3 separate regions of the Homo sapiens genome follow, and all the other regions are linked to region 3. Evidence: fine-mapped expression QTL. A gene starts in region 3. Each other region holds a variant in brackets. All regions are shown on one strand. Distances are from middle to middle.

What was found. PIP is the estimated chance that this variant, and not a neighbour inherited with it, causes the effect.
Region 1: its variant is fine-mapped to the expression of ALDH1A3-AS1 in prefrontal cortex (GTEx, PIP above 0.99). The same link has a PIP of 0.9 or more in anterior cingulate cortex.
Region 2: its variant is fine-mapped to the expression of ALDH1A3-AS1 in caudate (GTEx, PIP above 0.99).

The regions. Positions count from the first base shown.
Region 1 is chr15:100,893,265-100,900,963 of GRCh38, reverse strand. ALDH1A3 (aldehyde dehydrogenase 1 family member A3) reads right to left here. Exons shown (of 13, transcript NM_000693.4): 6 at 6,882-7,010; 7 at 4,918-5,031; 8 at 2,779-2,881; 9 at 205-389. ALDH1A3-AS1 (ALDH1A3 antisense RNA 1) reads left to right here. Exons shown (of 2, transcript NR_135827.1): 2 at 4,898-7,699. Among named protein-coding and RNA genes, the nearest start is that of ALDH1A3, 17 kb to the right of the region's middle. The variant G/A (reference allele first, on the strand shown) is at 5,546.
Region 2 is chr15:100,984,263-100,992,109 of GRCh38, reverse strand. LRRK1 (leucine rich repeat kinase 1) reads right to left here. Exons shown (of 34, transcript NM_024652.6): 5 at 3,297-3,476; 6 at 2,712-2,860. Among named protein-coding and RNA genes, the nearest start is that of LRRK1, 69 kb to the right of the region's middle. The variant A/G (reference allele first, on the strand shown) is at 3,886.
Region 3 is chr15:100,914,812-100,922,658 of GRCh38, reverse strand. ALDH1A3-AS1 (ALDH1A3 antisense RNA 1) reads left to right here and starts at 3,376. Exons shown (of 2, transcript NR_135827.1): 1 at 3,376-3,855. It overlaps ALDH1A3 (aldehyde dehydrogenase 1 family member A3), which reads right to left. Exons shown (of 13, transcript NM_000693.4): 13 at 6,033-7,847. It overlaps LRRK1 (leucine rich repeat kinase 1), which reads right to left and starts at 3,302. Exons shown (of 34, transcript NM_024652.6): 1 at 3,208-3,302. RefSeq lists enhancers at 1,674-1,733, 2,260-2,851, 4,026-4,145, 4,196-4,285, 4,038-4,630 and silencers at 3,066-3,655, 4,416-4,635.

The sequences.
Region 1 (7,699 bases), 22 kb after region 3:
CTCAGTGTGTCCTGCCCCCTTTCGTGAGCCCCCGGGACCTGACAGGATTGTGTTTCTGATCAGTTTCTAAAGAAAAGAAAGCCTCCTGGGCAGGACAGGTCAGCATTCCTTTCACGGAGAGGGACCCTGTAGGCGGTTGCCATGGGACTGCCTGCTTCAGCCCCTAGACAAGCACCATGGTTTCACACACACCAGGGGGATTACCTGAGGCCCCTGTTCTGTTTTGACATCGAAGGGGTCTCCCACGGGCCGTTTCTTGGCATACTCCACGCTCCGCCTGACAAACTCAGAGTAGACCTGCTCCTCCACGAACACCCTGGAGGCTGCCGTGCAACACTGGCCTTGGTTGAAGAACACTCCCTGATGGGCACACTCCACTGCCAAGTCCACTGGAGGGGGAGGGGCGAGGGAGGCGGGCAGAGCGAGAGGAAGCGATTAAGTTGTTAAAGCAGGACTGGTGACAGCTGCAATTCTAATTGCCCACACAAGAAAACAGGCCCCAGGATGGCTGCATTTCAGAAATTAATTTTGTTTGCAGACTTTCCCAAATAGAGAGGAAGGGAGAAAGGATTTTGGGGTCCACCAAGTTTGGGGTTAAATCAATTCCCTGACTGCAGGACTTCTCAGTACCTTTAATATGCTAATAAGTCCAGAGAGTCATAGCACCCTCCATTTCACTTGCCTTTTTCTAGAGGACTCCCCTCCCCTCCCCTTTTTCTAGAGGACTAATGTTTTATAGAATAAACTTCGGTAATTATTGATGTAGGCCCCCTGGCGAGAACTTCTAAAGAAGCCAAAATGTTCCACCTTGAGTAAAAGAAGGGTCTTATTAAGTAAGATAATATCATGTGTGTGACTTAGAAGGGCTGACTAAGTTGCAGAGCTGACATTGAACTAAAACCAGTTATTCAAACCAAGCCAGAGGGTATTTAGAGAATAAGATCTTGGGGGACACGCTTAGTGGATAAGAATGGTATTGGGATGTCATTTACATCTACAGAGGGGTTTCTAGTGTTCAACCGTTGGCTGGTTTCATCACCACCAACCCCCGCACTATTGCTTTCTTAAGAAATGCAGCTTTCCTTTGCATAGAGGCTGGCAGTGGCTCTGGGCATTGGAAGGTGATCCGTTCCAATTCCACAGGGGCTGCTCCAAGGGACTGTGCCCTTGGCTTTGAGAAGGAGGCTGCTCCTATCTAGCTGAGTCATTTGTGGAAGTTTCAGTGGCAGCAGGACAGCACCATAAGGTTTGGGGGTACCTCTCTGCACCCTTGACCCCTGCAGCTGGCTGGGCCAGGTCCCAACTTGGAACTGCCCCTCCTCCGAGATAACAGACTCATTTCCTGCTCCTGACGGAGCTAGGGGTGAGGCGAAGGGGCAGGGGAATGGTGGCTTGTTACCCTTGATGTCTTGCCTGGGATGCTGGTTATGTCAGGATGTAATTTGTGGACTGGCACCGCCCTGATGAGGAGAAGGAGGTGGCTACACAGCATGTTTTTATGACCCTCGTAAGTAAAACCAAGCCCCAAACACAATTAGTCCTGTGCTTTAGCTGCAGTTTTCCTCCCCAAGAGGAGGAAGATGAACTTCAGTGCAGGTGGCGTATCCAGATACGGTGGCACAGGAAAGCAAAACAGGAGTCCTGGCTGTTTGGGACTCCAAATGTGAGTCACAGTGCCAGAAATGCTCCGTGTGGCTCCAAAAACCACTTGCTATTCATAGCACTAATGGTGCTTCCACAAGGGAACACTGACCCAGGCAAGAAATGGAAAGTCCATCTTCACACCCAGCTCCCCTTTCCTTCCTGAGAGCCTGTATCCTCCTCCTGTCCTTTCTCCCATTGTGAAAGCCAGCTGCCAGAAAGGAACTGATATCAGTCATTTACACCTTAGTAAGAAATTGTGCCAGGGTCATTTTTCTTGGGGATATTTGCAATTCCAACCTTATCTGAGTGTGAAGTGAAAGGCTTTGTTCTCCACGACAGGAATTTCTGGCACCCGTGGACAGGTCTGGGAGGCTATTCTTTAAGGCAAAGGTGTTTCAAGGCACTTGGGAAGTCACACCTTTTGATAGCTGACCCTGTCAGCAGGTGAATGAATGCCCGGCCAGCCCTTCCTTCCCTCTTGTGGACATGGCAGCCAACAATAGCATATATTTTAACGCTGTGTCGTTTGGCTGTCAAGACGCAAGCTATCCCCAAACTGCTGGGCAGGTTGCTTTCCCAGGGCAGGGGTGCAGGCCTAGAACCAGGCAAAGCGGGTAATTTGAAGGATCAGTTGCTACTGCCCTCCTCTGATTTATCAGGTCTGAGACACAAGGAAAGAGCACCTCCACTCTTCAGGGATCTTAAAACATATGATAGGAAATGTGACTTGGAGGGGAGAATGAATGACTGGGAGTGGGCAGCACCTGCCCTCCCCACTCCTCCCAGGGGGCTCTGGAGGAGAAGCCAGACCTGCTCCTCGTGACCCCAGCTCTGCAGGAACAGGCAGGTAAACTTAACGCTAAGGCGCAGAAACAGGCAGCCTCTCAGGTGCCACTCAAGCCATATCGTTTTGGCAGTAGAAGGCAGCTTTCTGCTAGAAGTAAAGCTGGCATTTTGATGTCCACCTGCCTGTCTGCGGCTGGCTGACTGTGGGCAGGATGCCCACGGTGGAAGCGTCCCCACTGTGTGTGCACACATCTTACTCTCAGTTGGTTTTGAATTCAGGCCAGGAAGTAGGGGGAGACAGATGGATGCCCTGAAGCCCCAGCAAAGCCCAGGAGGGCAGAGACTCACAGTCAGCGTCCGCACACACGATGCAGGGGTTCTTCCCCCCCAGCTCCAGCGTCACCCGCTTCAGATTGCTCCGGGACGCAGCTTCTTTAACCAGTTTTCCAACCTCCAGGACAGAACACAGATCACAATTTACCTTGGATGTTGCTGAACTTGGCCCAGGCGTAAACATCAGTGAACATTCTGATCAAGCCCGGGTGGCAGTGCCACCACCTGGCTCTCGGCCCAGGCGCTCCAGGCCCCGATGCCGTCCCTTCACTGTCCTGGCCTCTGCCAGCATCTCCTCCCATGCCAGACCATGACATCCTGGGATCCTTGGTCTAAGCCGCTCCACTTACAGGTGTGAGTTAGAGCCTCTGGAAGCCCACACAGCTGGCTGGGAACAGGGCTGCCACCCGCTAACCTGTCCTGGTGCCTGTCCTTCTGAGCCCAGCAGGCTGGTCCAGCCAGTCTGGTAAAGGGCTTCAGGGACCGCAGGGTGACTCTTCTACCTCTCACTAGAAACAGCTGAAATTCCAACAGCCCAGTAGGGGGGTGGTTCTGTGTGGCTCTTTGGTGTGATCTGAGGGAACCTCCAAGTGTTAGAGAAGTAGCGAGGGCAGCCAGCCTTCCGGATGAGAAGGAGCCGATTCTCTGGAAACACACTCTAAGACTGAGGCTGCCGCAGACAGGCAGGGAGTGAAGGGGTGCGCTATGAGCAGAAAAGCCACTCACCAGTCATGCTCAAGGCCCCCACGGGGTCTCTCCCATTGCCCACTGTACCCCTGGAGGGGAGGGCTGGCCCAGCATGACTCGGTGACTTATCTAGGGCAACAAGTAAAGCCCAGCACCACGAACTTCAGAGCTGGGAAGATCCTCAGAGACCAGTGCAGACACGGAGGCCTAGAGCCAGAAGCTAGCAAGGCGCGGCCCAGGCTCTTCCGGGTCTGAGACTGTTTTCTCCAATGCTAAGGTGTGAGCGCATTTTAAACATCAGCAAGCTCATGGGTGATGGCTGAATGAGGTCTGGAATCCATCCACAGGGCAGTGTCTGTCTCCAAGGAGAGTAACAGCATCCACCAGGGCTTGGACTAACTAAGGAGGGGGATGGGGACACTGATTGCAGCGGGTGTTTTTTTCTTTTTTAAGTACAGAAGAAATACTTTCTCATTAAAAGTAATTCCACATAGAGATGTATGTGAATTACAGGGAGAAAGCCTTCAGCTTCCCTCCGGCTCTGCCCCGAGCCCACCCCATAGGTGGCCATCAGTAAGGATTTCTTGGGAATCCTTCCAGATAATTTCTACTTCTACAAGCACACACCTCTACGAATGGGAAAATATTGTGGGTAATTTTCTACCGTTTGCTGTTTTGTGCTTCAACAATAGATCATGGACAGCTTTCCTTGTTGTAACGGCTGTAAAACATTCCAGAGAATGAATATAATATCCTTGAAAATATGTCCCTGAAGCCTCATGAGAAAATTTCTCTAAGTAGTTTTTTCTTTTTTTGAAATGGAGCTTCTGAATCGAAAAGTTTTTCACTTTAAATGTTGGATGAGTGCTACCAAAACACTGTGCATCTTAGGGCAAGTGTCGCTGAGCACCTGCTTCCCCATATTCTCAGCAGTATCATTTCAGTTCTTAGCAATCTGGCAGGCAAAAGGAAAGTCTGATTTTGTTTGAATTTGCATTTTCCTGATTACCAGCAAACTAGTTTAAGCTTAATGGGCACGTCGTATTTCTATTCTCTGAACTGCCCATTTTTCTACCATTCAGTTTGGTTTTTTTTTTTCATTGACTTGTAGGAGCACTTTGCATATGACGGATATAAATTCTTGGAGCACTGCATGCATCACGACTATTTTTCTCTGAGCTTGTTATTTATCTCTTAATCTTAATTATGGTGTTTGACAGATGAATATTTTACATTTCTACTTTATCTTATCTCTCAATCTTTTCTTCTAAGGCTTCTGAGTTCTATTAGATATTTATTTAGTTTGGAAACTAGACCAGTGACTTTTTTTAACTGGTTGTTATGTACTAAAACATGGTCAAATTTAGAAGAAAAACAAATCATATTAAAGCCTGTCAAAGGAAAAGCTCACGGGTGTCAAATAACACGCCCCTTTCACTTTCCCCAGCACCCTGTGAGGAGGGTTACCTCTGTGGAGCCGGTGAAGGCGATCTTGTTGATCTGAGGGTGAGAAGAAATTGCTGCTCCCACTGTGGGCCCGAATCCTGGCACAATGTTCACCACTCCTGGAGGGAACCCGGCCTGGGAAGAAATCAAGATAGCACTTGAAGAAGAACGGACTTCATCCACCACGGATCCACATTTGGGCCGAGAGAGCCGTGGCTGCCTCACATCCCCACAGGGAACCCGGGCCGGGCTGGATTTACCCAGGACCCAGAAGCAGTTGACCGTGGGCACCCTGGGAGCTGACCTGGGCTTCTCATCCCCTGCTGCCAGCCCAGTGTGCAGGCTGGGCAAGGGGAGATGCCCACTTCTCCTTCTGGGGGGGGACCCCATCCCAAAGTGATATGCAGTGCAAATGTGTGGTTATGCTTCAAGGTGGCCATGGCCCGCCTGTAGCACAGCACCTTTCCATGTGGGGTGTGTGTGTGTGTGAGGGAGAGTGTGTGTATGCGTTAAGGGGAGAGGGGTACCTTGATCAGAATGCCCTGCCCAGGATCAGAGGCACCTGCAAAATATCTGCCAAGAGCTTCAGTTTTGTTTTTTCTTCTTTTTTTTTTTTTTGAGATGGAGTCTTGCTCTGTCGCCCTGGCTA[G/A]AGTGTAGTGGCGCGATCTTGGCTCACTGTAAGCTCCGCCTCCCAGGTTCACGCCATTCTCCTGTCTCAGCCTCCTGAGTAGCTGGGACTACAGGTGCCCGCCACCACGCCTGGCTAATTTTTTTTTTTTTAAGTAGAGATGGGGTTTCACTGTGTTAGCCAGGATGGTCTCGATCTCCTGACCTCGTGATCCACCCACCTCGGCTTCCCAAAGTCCTGGGATTACAGGCGTGAGCCCAGTTTTCATTTTTTAATCAGACCCGTTATTATTCCAAATGGTGACAGGGTATCACTCCCTTAAAGTTCTTTGCTTGTTCAACCTGGGTCTCACCTGGAGCAAGCCCTTCTGGAAGGCAGGGACTGCCACCTCGTTCACGTTCATGCCTCGTGTTTTTCATATACTAAGCCTCTTTATCAGGCGAGAACACAAAACAAACGAGGTGGAGGATGCTCTTCCCCACCTGTGCTGAGTCTTACTTAGAACACATTATTTCAGAAAATCAAGATTTTAGGCACGCTGCTTGAGTCTTTAGATTTTTAGGCACTGTTTCTTAACAGTTGGGATTTTCACATTCCTAAGTCTCACCAGTGTGACTTAATTATGCCCCACATCACCAAAGGAAAGTGGAAAATTGGCTCATCACCAGCTGTTCCCACCTTGCTTCTAAGCAACTGTGGACCTGCCTGCCGGTCATATCAGCCCGACTAAGAAGAGAAAGGAATGGATCTTTTCTTCTGTCCCTCTTTGCTTCCTGTTGCTTTCTCTAAATCTTTGCTCCATACAACCTGGGGATGGAATGACTAAAGGTATGTCTGGAAGGAGGTGTCCCATTGAGCCTCTGTTTCCCTAAGTTCTGGCTGCCTGAGGGAGAAGAGATTGCATTCAGAGCAGAGGGCACTGATTAGCAGGGACCCGGCACACGGACTGCTGCAGCCGCCCAGCTAGAGCTGACGAGGCCACCTCTCCAGAGAAAAATGGACCATTTCATAAACTGAGAATGCAAATCCCAGAGAACCTCCCAAATATTTGGCTCCCTCTTGGTTGACCCCCCCTGAAAATTCTCTAGACAAACCACTGGGTCCTCAACCATAGGTTTGAGCCCATAATAAGAGTTAAGCATTCTCATTAGGACCACTGGGAGGAATGGAGTTTCTCCAGCTCAGTGGCCACAAGCAGGAGAAAGAACGTGCAGTCGCCAAACAAAACACTGGAAGTCATTCCCTTCCCACTCGATTGCCAGCAGTCTGCCACTGTCCCATCTCGTGACGGTGGCCTGGTTCCTAGGAGTGGGAATGTTACCAAGAACATGTGATATTTTCTTTTTGGATGTCTCACCTCTTTGATCAGAGAGCCGAGATAAAGGGCGGTGAGAGGTGTCTGCTCCGCAGGCTTCAGGACCATGGTGTTCCCACAGCAGAGGGCGGGTGCCAGCTTCCACACCAGCATCAGCAGGGGGAAGTTCCACTGCGACAGAGCACAGGGGCTTTGGAGGCCCAGATCCACCCTCTTACCCTGTCCCATGTGCTCAACGATGCCTTTGTGGAGGACACTTGCTTTTCATGGTCTGGATTTGGGGTATGTGGGGTAACATAGGAGTGTGCAATGATCAGAACTGCAATCCTGCACAGCACTTCCTAAACTGCATTCTGGGTGGTACTAATAGGCAGCCTTTGCAAAGAGGATGCTGTTGCATGTGTTCTACCTCTCCCTCTAAAACATCTGCTGAAGACGTGTCCTCCTCCCTGCCTCCATGGGCACTTTTTGAACCCTCACTTCATGTTGCCACCTGGCTCTTCAGCTTCCTGCCTGGCTGTTGTTGCAATGGCCAGAGGCTTCCCAAACAGACAGGCAGCATTGTTGCACTTCTTGGGCACCTATAAGCATCCCCACCGCCCAATGAATAAAGTCCCGGCCCCTTAGCAGCCAAAGCTGCTGGAAGCTGGCCCACACCACCTGCCACGTGTGCTCACCCTTTTCCTCACTTTTGCTCCTGCCTGAGCTCTAGCCCCACCAGCTTTCCTGCTGTTCCCTTCCAAGTAGCCCAGCCACCTCTGCACTTTTGCCTAGGCCATTCCCACTCCTTGGAAAATCCTTTTCCTTGTTGAACAAGTCTTTCTTATCTTTAAGGCCCAGCTAAGAGACCACCTTCCTGG
Region 2 (7,847 bases), 69 kb before region 3:
TATAAACACAGATGCAGAAACTGTAAATAAAATATCAATAGATCAAATCCAGCAGTTAAAAAAAGACAATGAGCATTTATAATAGGAGTTCAAGGTTGAGTCAACATCTATCAAAATCATTTATTAAATCAATAAAGTAGAAAAGCTATATGAATACACTAATTGCTGCAAAAAGGGATTTGAAAAAGTTCAGTAATGTTTCCTAATAAAAACTCAAAGCAAAAATGAATACATGGAAACTACCTAAATATAACAAGAACCTATTTGCTAACTGTCCAGAGCAAATGCTTATAAATTGGTGACACCAAGACATTTAAAATCAGGAACAAGATAGATATAACTGCTAGAGTCATGATTATTCAGTTTTTGAGATTTCTAAAGATACACAATAAGACATGGAATAATAAGTTGTATAAATATTAGAAAAAAGAGATAAACTTGTTTTGAATTTGTAGAATATGTGATCATATATCCAAAAGTATTGAGGAATTCTAGTAAAAACTACATTAGAGTGAATAAGAGAAGATGGGAAAGGAACTGGATAAAACAGAAATAAACAAAATAACTTTTCTCCATACCAGTAACATCAGGTTGGAATAGAAATGGAAAAGAGTTATATAAATATATAGATAGTTCATTAAAATGGTAGCAAAAACAATATAAAAGTCACTAACAGACAAGACAGGTCCAGGAGTTTTAGGAAGAAAAGAAAAAAATCTCATTAAAGAACATAAAAGCTACACAAATAGAGTCACTGTGGGAAATGAGCAAAATAGAAGAACAAATGTCCGATAATAGTCCAGTCAAGATATCTTTGAAAAAAACTAATGAACAGAAAACTTGCATTAACAGATTGTAAAACTTAAATGCAGTGCCTATAATCGAAACAATATGACATTTGCCAGAAACAGATTAATAGGCCAGTGAACCAGTACTGAGAATCCCAAAATGTATACAGATATAGGTACTGGGGAAAATGCCAATGGTGACATCTCAATTCAGATGAGAAAGAAAACTTCATTTTAAAAACTGTGCTAGAGTAGCTGGCTATCTGGAAGAGATAAAAGCTAGCCACCTCCACCCTCTGCCACTTCCCTCATACAATACACACAAATAAATACCAGAAAGGTTAAAGCTTAAAATGTAAAAACTAAATGAATGAAAACATTACAAGGAACTCCAGGAGAATACTGAAATAAAATTAGAGGGAAAGTGGCCTTCTTGTATAACCACATACCAGAAAGGAGAAGATGAACATATTGAATTATGTATTATTTTACCTTTGCTATCACAAAAGATAACAAAAAAAGAAAAATAATGGATTGGGAAAAATATTGGCAACATTTATGATAAAGTCTTAAAAATCTCTAATGTTCAAAAAAAAAAAAACCCTCCAAAGTGAGAAAAAAAGACAAACAATCCTTTAGAAAAAATAATCAACAAACATTAACAGGCAGTTCACATAAAGGGAATGCAAATAGTTCATGAACATATGAAAAGATATCCAGTATTATTACTAATATAACATGGAAATTAAAATAAGCAGAAATTATTTTTGCCTCACACTGATGAAAATTAATAGGCTCCAGGATGCCTACTGCTTGCTGGCTGAGGGGTGGAGACAGAGAATCCCACCTATTGCTGGTGAAAATGTGAATCACCAGAGTGTTGGGGGGCAGTGTTTCCAAAGCAGCCCACTTTTAGGACTGTGCTCTACATAAGCAAACATACCATAGCAAATCAGGCTATATTGCAACAGGAAAAAAAAAAGAACTATTTCAAATGTCCACCAATAGCAGGAGAGCTATGTCAACTAAGTGACACTGGCTCTATGTATTTAAAGAACGTCCCTAAAAGAATGAGTTGAAGCCACAATAACTGATCTAGAGGAAGTCCATGATAGAATACTAAATTTAAAAAGCCAAGTTGAAGACAATGTAAATAACGCAATAATATTTTTGTTATTAAAATGGGAAATTAAAACTAAACCCTGTATAGTTTTGTAAATGTTTTTATAGCATTGCATGTGGAAGGATGTGAAAAGATCCCTACCAGGTTGTTAAACTATTTACTTCAAGGGCAGAAGATTCATAATTTTGATTACCACTCTCAATTGTGATCACTTGTTATAACAATCATTCATAACTTTAGTAATTTTAAAATTTAACACATAAAAATTTAAAAAAGAAATATGTTAAATATGATATATTTAACCAATTTTTGAAAAAAGGAAAAGAGAAAAAAAACAACCAAAAAAAACCAGAAACAAAAACAAAAACTCTGGGAGGGGGATGAAGCCCAGATTTCAGCTCCCACCCTGCTATAGCTTGAATGTCCCCTTCAAAACTCATGATGAAATGTAATTGCTGTTGTGATAAGGATGGGACCATTAAGAGGTGATTAGGCCAAGAAGGCCCCACCCTCATAAATGGATTGATGTTGTTATTGTGGAAGTGGGTTTGTTATTTTGAGGGTGGGTTGTTATAAAAGTGAGTTCTTCCCTCTCTCAGTCTGTTGGTCTCTTGCCCTCCACCTTCATATCACTGCATGAAGGCCCTCACCAGATACCAGCACTATGCTCTTGGACTTCTCAATCTCCAGACCTGTAAGCCAAATATATTTCTGTTTATTATAAATTACCCAGTCTGCAGGATTCTGTTACAGCAGCACAAAAGGAACTAAAACACACTCCACAGGCAGTGACTACTCACTGTTTTTCCCGGATAACTGCTGGGCAAGGGACTGGCTTCAATGAAGTACTTTCTCAGCAGATGTTTGCTGGGGTCAGGACTATCCAGCAAGATGTAGGAACAGAAATAGGCCCCATGCCGAAGCAGGAATATTGCAATGTCTTCATTCCCTAAAGGAACAAAACCAAAAAGCTAAGGGCATGCAGATGCTAGTGTCACAGTCGTTGGAAGGGCAGACTCTGATATGTGGAATGGAAACTGAAAAGGTACTTGTGCATGTTGGACTTCTCTATTTACTTCCCTTGGTGCATCAAGTTTCTGTTAGTGGGAGAATTTCTGTGGGGCTTTGCCCTTTGGAGTGCCTCGTACAACAGTCCCATTAGCCACAGTCAGTCTCTGTCACTGAAATCCCCTTGCGGGGGCAAGTAAGGAGGAAATGAGGAAGGGTGCAGATATTTTGAAAAAGAAACATAGAACAGGAGTTGCAAAAGTCTCCTCACAGAGGTGATTTGAGAGCCAAGAGTGAGAATAAAGACACAGTCCCACATCTGGAGGCTGAGATGGTTTGCACGGTCAGGGTTGACTCAGGGTAGTGGGGAAACCCACCTGACTTGATGGCCGCATACAGGGGCAAGCGCACGATGACAGGGAACTCATTCTTCCTGACAGCGTAGCTCTCCGGGTCAGCCCCGTGCGTCAGGACCAGGAGCTTCACAACCCCCAGGTGCCCTCGCTGGCAAGCCAAGGCCAGCATCCAGTTCAGAAGCCGCTGGGGACTGCAGGGACCTGGCAGGAGATGGCAGGACAAAGGGAAAGTGCCACTGAAGGGTGCTGTTTGTTCCCACTCTGCTCTTCCCTTAGACCGCTAGTAGCAATGGACTGGTTAAATAAAATGTGGTACATTTGCACCATGGAATACTATACAGCCATAAAAAAGAATGAGATCATGTACTTTGCAGCATCATGGATGGAGCTGGAGGTCATTATCCTAAGTGAACTAACGCAACAACAGAAAACCAAATACTGCATGTTATCACTTATAAGGGGGAGCTAAACATTGAATGCACGTGGACACAAAGAAGGGAACAATAGACACTGGGGACTACTTGATGGTGGAGGGAGGGAAAAGGGGGAAGGTTAAAAAATTACCTATTGAGTCCCATGCTTATTACCCAGGTGACGAAATAATCTGCAT[A/G]CCGAACCCCGGCAACATGCAGTTTACCCACGTAACAAACCTGCATATGTACCCCTGAACCTAAAGTAAAAGTTAAACAAAACAAAACAAAACCCAGCTGTCCTGTTTCCAGCTGAAAGTTGCTTCTGTTGAGTTGATAGTGTTTTCTGGAATAGTCTCTCTGAATTGCATATGACATTTCCCCACATCAGTCACCCACCTGCTTGTCAGATAATGCCGAGTGATGAAATGGAGGATTAAAAATGGCGTATCCAGCATGATCTTAGCCAAATAAAAAATGGGTGTGTGGAAATAAGACTAGAAACAACTACCCCAGCATTGTGGTATTTTCTCTGGGCTCTCCCCTGCCCTCACCCCTCCCCTAGGGTAACATTACATGCAGGAGTATGAACTTTGGAGACAGGCATTTTAGAAATAAAATAATTTAGTATGTAATTTTGGACACATTTCTTAATCTCTCTCTGTTTCAGTTTGCCTGTTGGTAAAATCGGAATAATAATACTCATTCTTCCAAGTTTAATGTGAGGACTACATCACAAAATGCATGTCAAGTGCCTGGATCAATAAACCCTAACTCATGATGTTGTGTCATTGTATTATTAAAGTACTGACACTTTCCCACATTTTAAAATTATCTATAATATACATATATTACTTTCATGAATAATAATAATAAAAGCTTTGGTGAAAGATCTGTCAGGCCTAAAAGTGACAATTTCTCCCCAGTAGAACCACCTACTTAATTCCAGGATGAAATAACACTTAGCACATTGAATTGACGGGGGCAGTGTGGGCTGAAATGTTACAATATCTTCAAGTTCAAAATAGTGCAATATCTTTTGGGTCTAGTTGCCATGGAAAAATGACCTCATCTTCTGCAGGGACACTTCCCAAATGCATCATAACACTGCCTCATTTCCAGAGGCACATAGTCCTAGGGATCAAAGTGCTCCCAAGTGAGGAGAGAGTGACTCTCTCCTTCGCGACAGGACATTGATCAGGAAACCGGGGTCAGGATGGCCCTGTATTCACCAAATAAAGCATGTAGCATAGGGCTGAGGCTGGAGCCAGTGCCAAGTAAATATCCCTTCTTCTCCCTCTACTGTTAACCAGAATTAATGATTTGTAGGTATGTTAACAGAAAATAAGTGACCCCTAATCCACTTACACAAGAATATCTGGGTAAGAGAAACACAGTAACCATGCTAGTAACTTCTGTTGAGATGGGGATGTGTCAGTCTTTGGAGGCAGGCATTATATTTCAGGACCATGATTTTAAGATGAGGAAACCAAAGCTCAGAGAGGTTTGGAAATGTAGGAGATTGGTCAGAGTCGTAGGAAAAACTACAGGGAAAGGACACAAACCTTCTGAAAGTTTGGAAGCTTCTGCAGAGCCCTGGGGGAGAACAGCTGAAGGCAGAGGGCAAGGAGTGTAGGGGAATGTATCTTAAACAGGCTTGTTTACTTATGTTGACCAGGAACTGACCTTTGATCATCTGCTGGCTTGATGTTCCCTGAAAGGGGAACAATAAATGTTAATTACCTACAGGTTGTGTTGGCTCCAGGTTTTCGGCATTGTGCCTGCACTGAATGAAAGCAAGCAGCTCTAGCTTCTTCGGGCTGCTCTCTGGCCAACAGAGCCAGGCAGTGACTCAGCTGCTCTTACACCGTACACCTGTGTCTGAGTACTCATTTCATCCATCAGCCAGGGTCTGTGGGACACACCTGGCAGGGAAACTTCTTGAAGGTCCCACAGTTAGTAAATAGCAAGGTCAAGACTTAAACCTTGCTTTGTCTAAAATCAAAGGGTGCTCTCTTAACCACACAAAACCCCTACAGGTACTCTCTACAGCCTAAGGCCAACGACACTCAGAGGAGCCCCTCTTCCTCCCTGCTCAGCTTCAGAGACCAGGAATCACATAACAACGTGCTTCAAAGAATGCATCCCATCAACCTCTCATCCCTCTTCTTCTCAAACCCTCCTTTGTTCTCTAGCTGCTTCTTGTTTTTGTTTTTTGTTTGAGACAGGGTCTCCTTCTATCTCAGCCTGGAGTGCAGTAATGTGATCATAGCTGACTGCAGCCTTGGACTCCTGGGCTTAAGCCATTCTCCCACTTCACCCTCCCAAGTACCTGGGAATATAGGCATGTGCCACCATGCCTGGTTAATTTAAATTTTTTTTTTTTTTTGTAGATACAGGGTCTCACTATGTTACCCAGGCTGGTCATGAAATCCTGGGCTCAAGTGATCCTCTTGCCTTGGCCTCCCAAATTGTTGGGATTACAGGCATGAGCCAGCATGTCCAGCCTGACTCTTGTTTGTCTTCTTGTCTTGACTTACTCCTGACCATGGCTGACTTCCCTTCCAGCTTGGGAACTCCTTTGCAGGAAGTGCAGGGATGGGTACACACTGTTTTGCCCATCTCTGCACTTTCTGCAAAGCCCACCACAATGGTCTGAAATCCTTCAGTCCTCAGCAGCTTTGCTCAGAGTTGAGCTGAAGATACGATGCTCCTGGGAGCAGTTGAAAACCATGACGAGGTTCAGCCACACTTCCTGCTCTGCAAAAGCAGGCAACCCAAGTCCTTCCTTCACTTGTCTGCCAAGTAAACTCCTATTCACTCTGCAAAGCCCAGGTCAGATGTCAGCCTCCCTTCGGAGACCCTACCCTGCCCCCTGATGTGTGCTCCCAGACCTCTGCGTAAAAATACTTCAACCTCAGTGTAGTTACATTGCACAGTGTTACTCCTTTCTGCCTCAATTTCCCCTGCTTGGCCAGGAGGTACTAAATGGCTGGGAAAATCTTTAAAAAAATTATCTGTCTCTCACGTTCTACACAGTTTTCAGCACTTGACAGTATTCAATAAATATTAGCTAACATTAGGTGACGGAGTCAGCTGGTGCAGACTCTTCAGGGCTAGAACAGAGCTAATCTTGGGGCTCCCCGAGAAGAGGCAGGTCAGCCTTTGGCTCCTCAGGAGCACCCAAGCTCCTCTCTGCCCTCCTATGTCTTGTCTTAGTATGCTTCTCATGGGCCCTAAAATTGCCCTGATTTCTGCCCATAACCTCATTCTGTTCAGACACATGAGGGGAACACTAGCTTGGAACCAACGCTGAGCACAGATCTATCAAAGCCCACAGCTGGAAACCCTCAAACAAGACCACTATATAAGGGGTGAGGCCCAATGCAAAATGAAAAGAATGGGGCTTCTTGTTTAAAAATCATGAAACATTTTAAGATAGTGAGTACAGAGTATTAAACGTAACGTGGGCCCTTCTAGGTGCAGGGCCCTGGGTGACTGCATGTTCTCCCACCCAAGAGGTGGGCCCTGGCTCCCAAGCAAAATCTCAAATCCCAAAGACCATGGCTAGGGTGTGCCTCACCCTATAGCTGTAGCGATGCCTGCCTAGACTGGTGCAGTGTTTCTGAGCCAAGACCACCACGGGAAATTACAGGAGACCAGGACATCTTGAGTTCACCAGAGAAAAAAATAGTTCCTACAAAAGCAACATAGTGTGGTACACCAATACAATGGAATATTATTCAGCCATTAAAAGAAATGAGCTATCAAGTCACAAAAAGGCATGGAGAAACCTTAAATGCATATCGCTATGGGAAAGAAGTGAGTTTGAAACGGCTACAGACTGTGGGATTCCAACTAGAGCGATGTTCTGGAAAAGGCAAAGATAGTAAAAAAGATCAGTAGTTGCCAGGGGCCAGGGGAGGGAGGGAGGGAGGGAGGGATGGGGCCAGGGGAGGGGTGGAGCACAGAGGATTTTTAGGGCAGTGAAACTGCTCTATGTAATACTGTCATGATGGACACGTGTCATTATCCATTTGTCAAAACCGATGGGATATACAACAGCAAGAATGAATTGCAACGTAAGCGATGGACTTTAGTTAGTAAGAAGGTATCAATATTAGTTGATCAGTTGTCACAAATGTCCCACACTAACACAAAA
Region 3 (7,847 bases):
AAGAGCCAGCAAGACAGAATCTGTTTTAAAATAAACGTTCCGATCACACATTCACATCCAGAAACTGAGAAGCACAGTTGCCATCTGCTTTCAGACACCTCTCCAAAACAGCTACCGCACATAACCAACAGCATTTCAAAAATCCAAACGCTAGACATTCTTCCTGAAAACAGAAGTGTCTTACCATACAATGTTTTTAAGTTCTAAAAAAAAAAAAATCTTAAAATTATTTCAGGCTAACCCTCACCCAGCACATTTTGTTCCCCTTTTCATTTTCAGTTTCCTTTTGAAAATCACTTTACCAGTGGAAGACTCTGCCCCTGGAGCAGTTTTAAAATTCTAGTTACTATTTTGGCTTATATTCTAAGGTAGAAGTTTTAAGATGAGGTAATTCAAATTTTGCTCAATCTTTGCCCTCAAACGGATCTTTGCTTCCTCCTGCTTCTTTTGGGTCCAGAGAGGTGCCAACAAGTGATGATTACAAGTTACATGTCTTCATTATACACCCTAAAGAGGGCATCAAGAGGTTTTCAGCAGTAATGATGGTTTAAATGATTTTTCAAAACCTCATCAATTTCCTTTTGCCAACTATTTATACCTGCATTAATGAATAAACCTAAACATTTAATGGAAAAGAAAATAGATGGGTGCGGTGGTTCACGCTTGTAATCCCAGCTCTTTGGGAGGCCGAGGAGAGTGGATCACTTGAGGTCAGGAGTTCGAGATCACCCTGGCCAATATGGTAAAAACCCATCTCTACTAAAATTACAAAAATTAGCTGGGCATGCTGGTGGGCGCCTGTAATCCCAGCTACTTGGGAGGCCGAGGCATGAGAATCACTTAAACTGGGGGAGGTGGAGGTTGCAGTGAGCCAAGATTGCACCACTGCACTCCAACCTGGGTGACAGAGCAAGACTCTAGAGAAAAGAAAAGAGAAGAACCTGTCATTCATTCTACAAATGTCTTATTGAGTTCTTTCTATGAAGAGGGAACTTCATGAGTTTGTGAAGCTGGTGGGGGAGCAGACAGCTAAGTAATTGCTATAAAGCTTCTGACAGCAGAGAAGCCCAGATATTTTAGGAGGCTTGGGAAGGACTGTCGATATCAGTTAGAAGTTAGAAGTCCCTTGCAAGCAAAGCATGCTAGACATGCTCATTCATATCACCTAGTTCCTTTTTGAAACAAAATCCTGGTCAAAATGGTTAGCCCATGATTCTAGAAATCTCTTGAGTGCTATTTGCATCCCTTACTAGCATTGGCTTTTGCCTATAAAATGTGTTTAATGGGTTTGGGGGCATCCAAATATCTTGGAGCTGCAGGCCAGAGAAATATGTTGTTCTCAATCCCAGATGAGCCCAAAAAGGGTGGAGGAGAGAAATGCTCCATGAGTCTGAAACCACAGGTAAGTTAGGGTTGTCCATTCCCCATCCAGTCACTCTACCACCATGCACGGGGTATCTCCCTGTACAGTTATGGGAATGAGGGCACAGCAATAAGCAAGACAGATCAGTCTCTGACCCCAAGAGCTCCAGTGGAGACCACAAGATAATTAAGGAGAAATTAAACAGATAAAGAAGGAGTACAGAATGGGGACTGCAGGGAGGCTGCAGAGTGAGGGATGTGAGAGGGAGCGTGGGTTTTCAGAGGGTGACCAGGGAAGACTTTCTGAGGCTGTGTGAAGAGTCAGGAGGCAGCAGTGCAGGGGACCAGTGCTGGACAGCAAGCTCAGCCAGTGTGGCCTGGGGCAATGGCCTGGTGGTCCGAGACAGCAGAGGCTGGATCAGCTGGGGGTGTGAGGAGAAGGAGGTCTCCTGGATTGCGTGCCAGTTGCAAGGAGAAGCTACTGAAGGACTCCATAAAGAGGACTGATATGGTCTGATTTACCCATTTAAACACACAGACACACACAGACGCACGCTGCTATATAGAGAATGGAGGAAGGGGGAACTGAAATCCTACAGTAAAGAGATGCTGGTACCCTGGACAAGGGGCAGGGTGGGGGGTGGGGGCATAAGAAAAAGGGGACAGATCAGGACACATTTTAGACATAGATTCAACAGACTGAATGTTTTTTATCTGAGGATCCGAGTTGACTGCGAGGTCACTGCCAGAGACATCGACTTTTGGGAGAGGGAAAGGTTTGGCTGACCGCAAAACCTCCTTTAGGAACAAATTAGGTGTGAGGTTAGTTTGTTATATTATTTTCTCTTTCAGGACATAGGCAAAGATGAAGAGAATCAAATCATAAAAGGCGTTTAATGTTAACATTTTCCAAAATTGTGCATGTTCTAGCTATCCCTTTAATGTCTGGGCATTTTGATACCCTGTGAGTGGCTGGCAAACTCTATCATTAGTGTACACGGTGAGAGGTTTGCTGAAAGCTATATGCCCCCGTTTCTCTACCTGTTGCAGGGGAAGTGTTCGTGGGAGAAAAACTTCGCGGCCTCATACTGTGAAGGGGTAGGTTGAGATGGCCACGGGGGTTCTCAGATTCTCCACCAGCGTCTCCTCGCTGACCCCGGCCTTCCTAGGCTTCCTTCCCGCGTCCCTGCCTGCCAGGAAGGTCCCCTGTAGCTTGCAGAGACCATGGTAGACAGAGCAGTTGTATCTGCGCCAGCCAGAGACCACCTGGGCAAGAAGCGTGACCCAGACATCGAGGAGGGTGAAGCCTCGCTGGGCCGCCCCGCAACCCCAGGAAGCCCCGGACCAGCGAGAGGCTCCCGGGCGGTCTCTTGCCGACACCCCGGCACGGGCTCACCCGCGCGCTCACACTCCGCCCGCTCCCCGCTAAGGGACTGGGTTCGCTCCAAAGGCAGAGGAAACCTATGGGCTCCCCGGCTCGTGTCTCCCGACTCGTGTCTCTTGCCTCCGCTTCCCAGCTTTCCCGACCCTGCCCGGACGGGGTTTCGGGGTTCCCTGCTCGGGCCCCGCGCGCTCCCCTCCCACAGGCTGGCTGGGCTCCGGGCGCGGCGGGAGGCAGCGGGGACGTGAGACCGGGGTCGCCCCACACGCCCTCCGCGCCCCTCGGGCCGCGGCCCCTGCGCAACGGCCCCCCGTGCCCGACCACGCGGCCGCCCGGAGCGCAGGGGCCCGCGGGCAGGCAGAGGCCGAGGCTCCCCGCGGGCGCCGGGCGCGGGCTCTGGGTTCCCCGGGCGGGGCCGGGAGGCAGCCAGGCCGCCGGGGGGCGCCGGCAGGAGCGGCGCTTACCTGAGGCGGCGGCGGGGCCGGGTGCGGGCGCTCCGGGACGCGGGGCCGGGCGGACACACTGGCGGGGCCGGGGCCTGGCCGTCCCACCGCCGTCTGCCCCCCGCGCCGGGGCCGGGCCCAGACGCACTTCCTCAATCCTGAGGCGGGCGGGCGGGGAGGGCGGCGCGAAGAGCGCGCAGAGCAAGGCCGCCGCCAGCTCTCCCAGGAACCGTCGCGAGGCGTCCCCTCGGCGGCCGCCTCAGTTTCCCTGGCCGTAAAACGCGGGCGATGGCGCTCGATGCCCCGGGAGACGCCGGGGTCCGCGGGCCCTTCCGGCACCGGGTCCTCCTTCAGGTTCGGGCACCCGGCTGCCTCCACGCGGGGCGAGCGCGGCGATGGGATCGGTCCGTGCTGCGCTCAGCCCCGCTTTCGCTATCCCTCTGCTCCAGGGGCAGCAAAATCAGCAGATGAGCCCCCAGCGCGCCTGCGGCCCACACACTGCGGCCGTAACAGTTAAACAGACGGGGAACATTCATGTGCGTAGAGCTCTTCACGGGGCGATACAGAAATGTGTCGTTCTAAAGCGTTAACGACCTGCAATTTGCATATCCTCCAACACATGGATTTTACTGATTCAATTATGGATGTGTGCAAAGAATCTGCTGCTCGGTGAGTCATTGTTAATTGTCGGCTTTGGGGGGAATACATAAAACGTGGAATATTGGCAATTTATCGTGTTTCGACCTTTTATAAAGGCGTCACCAGGCTGCTGAGGCTAATACAGAAACGCAGACCATAAAAAAGATCTGCGTCCACGCTGCAGGCGGGCCTCACGCTGAGCTCCCCGTGTCGACCCGGGGACAAAGCCTGCTCAGGAAGAGCAGAGGGTTCCACGCCCTGCAGGACCAGCGCCCTGGGCCCCTCTCCTGGAAAGTTATGACTCGCACGTTCCCAGGATTTAGCGCACATCTCCCCCACCCTCACTGCCATTTCACAGAACCGGGGCAGCCGCAGGGCTCCTGCAGGACCTCCCGGACGCCGCGGGGCCGTGTTCCCTTGAGCGGCTTCTTGGGTCCCTGGTTGGAGAGGGGACCACCGAGCAGCTTCGCTCTGCTCCTGGGAGGCTACTTCTGCCACTGGACGACTTTCCAAAAGGGTGAGCGCAGTTCTGCAATCCTGTTCTCACCCCTGAGGGCCTCACACCAGTTTGCAGGAGCCAGCAGTGTGATTGCCACCGACAAGTTCCCAACAATTTGCAGGGCGTGGTGTCCTCAGTGCTGAGAGAGCCCCGCGACGGCGGTGCAGCTCCTCCAGGGCGCGCAGCCCCGCCACCTGGCGCCACCGCGAGGGAGCGCAGGCCCAGGGCCCGGGCAGACGCTGGAGGGGACGCGGCAGGTGAAGATGGGGCACCTCCACTTCCCTTCTAAAGGAGCCTGGGAATAGGCTAGGAAATGTCCCCACTGTAGAAGACAGCAGGAACATCTGACACGCGGATAACCTGTGCTGAGCTCGTTATATTCCCAGCATTTAATTCTAGCCATTAGGCATGCGTTAGCCACAACTTCGCATAGGAAGGTTATTGCAGGTAAGTTAAGACTCCTTTCCACTTCTTCCTAAGGGTCGCTGACCCATGGTTCTCTAGCTTTTGCTGGTAATCCCACCCAGATTCTCAGCACCCTAGGTTGGAATGACCCCTCCTGAGGTGGGTGGGGTAGCTGGGAGGCACCTCCCTGAACTGACTTTTCTGCCTTTTTGAAGGTGCAGTGGCTGAGCGCTCCTTCAGTGTTTTCCGGTTGTCTTTCTTCAGCCCAGTACGCAGTTTCCTCAGACAGTCTTCCTTGAGCAACTTCCTAAACGCCCTTCATTATCCCCCTTCAAGCTCATGCCTAGGAGCAAGGAGCAAAGCCATTAGAAAGGCTTCATCCACCAGCAGGAGAAGCTAGGACATCCCAAAGGGTCCACTTCTAGAGAGGTGCCAACCCCCACACGCACACCAGGCACACAAATGCATGTGTGCACACGCATACCACACCCTCCAATTGTCCCCAGAATGGCTCCCTTCAGGGAGTCATGTTCCGGGACACCAAATGAGGGAAAATATCCTTCTCCTACAGTTTCCTGCTCACATTTGGATTGAGAAATGGGATGTCTCTAAATAATGTGTCTAAATTCTCTTAACATAAGTGCATATGTTACGAGAGATCTGATCCCAGCCTCCCTTTTTTGTTAAAGTGGTGGTGCTTTGCCACCCATGTCAAAATGATCTGGGCTTTCCACATCAAATGCAAGGGATGAGCTTGGAGGACATACCCCAGTACCAGCAATGATCTTGAGCCAATGGCAGCGTCAGCTCACAACGGGGTGATTGAGGCTTCTTGGTTAGAAGCTTTAGAAACTTGAGGTCAGTAAAACCCAAATTGATCCTTTCTCTAGATCCTCTAGATTTCTCTAGAGGAAAAGGTGACAAAAACAGACACTTGTGCTCACCGTCAGGGGCACAATGCTGTCCGTCAATCCTCATGCAGTCCTCCCCACCATTTCGCACACTGACACCATCACTACTTTATGATAAAAGGAGACTCAGGCAGCTTAGATAACAGCTGAAACTCAGCCAGCTATGACATGGAACCTCTGAGGCCCAGCTCCTTGCCTGGTCAACCCCCAAGCCCACAGAAATGGGTTTCACACTCAGGCAAAGCACTGGGCCCGACTGACTGAGCAAATGTAATTTTATGCTTACATTATTGATCCTGCTTTAATATCAGCCATTTCGTACAGGTCTCAGAAAGAGAAAGGCCTGCCATCGAATTCAAATGACTTTGGTCTTTAAATGAAAAAGCACAATGTTTCTCAAATATCCAATTTTATTTTATCATTCTCGCATTGTGGGATGCGATCTGCAGCTAGGATCGGAATTCCCAGGCCTATAGATTTTTAAACCACACCACAGGGGTAAACCTTAAAAGAAGTGAAACCTAACACTATATATATTTCCATTTCTAAATACAGTATATTACAGAAGTTTAAATATACCACCTCTGTGTACTTACAACTATAAAAAGATACAATAACTCTACCAATTATAAATAATGTAGCATTTCATATTAAAGACATTATCGTACAATGGAAGAATAGGAACCCTCTAACGTATCACTATCAAGGTTAGTGTCTATATCTACTTGAGATAAAATACTGAAAATTCAGTGTATGAAGCCAAATCCTGATTTAACAAGTTATTGGTAGTATAAGTGATAAGTGTTAGCTGATGAAGGGAAGGCAAATGTGGTAATTTATATCTCTGACAAGGGTGATAGGCCCATTTTATACATGGTTTTCGTTATACACACACTGGTTCTGTTACGGGCCCTCATTTTATTATTGCCCTCCCCAACTTAATTTGCAAACTTAAGCACTACTTTCCCAATTAGGAAAGTACTAGTTAGTAACCATAAAAGTATCCGTCGGATAACACATTTGTTTTTGTTTTTGAAGCTATATGGGAACACTTTCAGTTTCCCAAGTTAAAACATGAAATTGCACATCATCATTTGGATCCCCAAAGAGGAAAAGAAAAATTCACAACCTGCCAGTGAAATACTCAGGCCACTTGGATGAAGACCGAGGTCCTCCATAGAATCCAGGTGTTATTTACTAACTAATCAGAAATTAATATCAAAATAGGACTTAAAAATAACAAGGCTGTGTTATTACAGCAGTCTTTCCAGTTGTGTACGCTTTACTAATCTAAATTGGGTAACAGAACTGGAGAAAAGGAAGACTACACAGACTTATCATAAGCTGTTAGTGAACGTGATAGAAATGCGTAATTTGTTAAAGCGAATTACAGCTCTGATTTGTCAAATGAGGAGGTGAATTATCCTAGGATTTGCTATGCTGTTGTGGCGTTAGAAGATTGGATCTTTAGCAGCAAAGGTAACCTCAACAATATTTTCTGCTTAAGAAAGTGCCTTGGTTAAGGTAGACCGTGATATCGTCTTTGACTAAGCTCTCTGGGCTATTGATTCTGTCATATTCCAAAGGCAGTATTGGTTTGAAGCCGAATCTCACGGTCAATGTCAACATGCAATCCACAAAGACCCTGGCGCCCTTCCACGGTATGCACTAACCAAAACTTTCTCACTGTGAAATCCTTTTTTTAAAAACAAGAAAACAAAAAACAAAAACCAAAAAACCTTACTGTGAATCCTTTCCCAAGGAATGGTCCCACCTTCACCTCGGAAAGAGGCGTGGCTTGCTCTGTAAGCAGGTCCACCCTGAGGAGACCGCTGGTGCAAGAGCCCTGCTTGCAGAACACACAGGGGGTTTTCCCACATTCTTACTGGAGTCAGATTCGGCAAAGCATTTCAAGCAACTGCTGGACACTTCAAATACCACTCCCTGTTAACAACGCCCTGAGTATCTCACTGTCTCCAGGATCTGGTTTAAAGGGAAACACAGAAATGGCCAACAGCTCCCTCCCCAGGCAGGACTGCGATTTCACAGACAACCTATAGGCATCCCCAGTCTGGTGAATAAACAGGAGAGTGAGAGGAAAACAGCAATCATTCAACTCCAGTAGATGTAAAGCCTCCAGAAGAATGTGTCCCGGGAAGGTCAGAAATGTCATTTTTTTCCTCCAGCACATTTCATCTGCCACATTC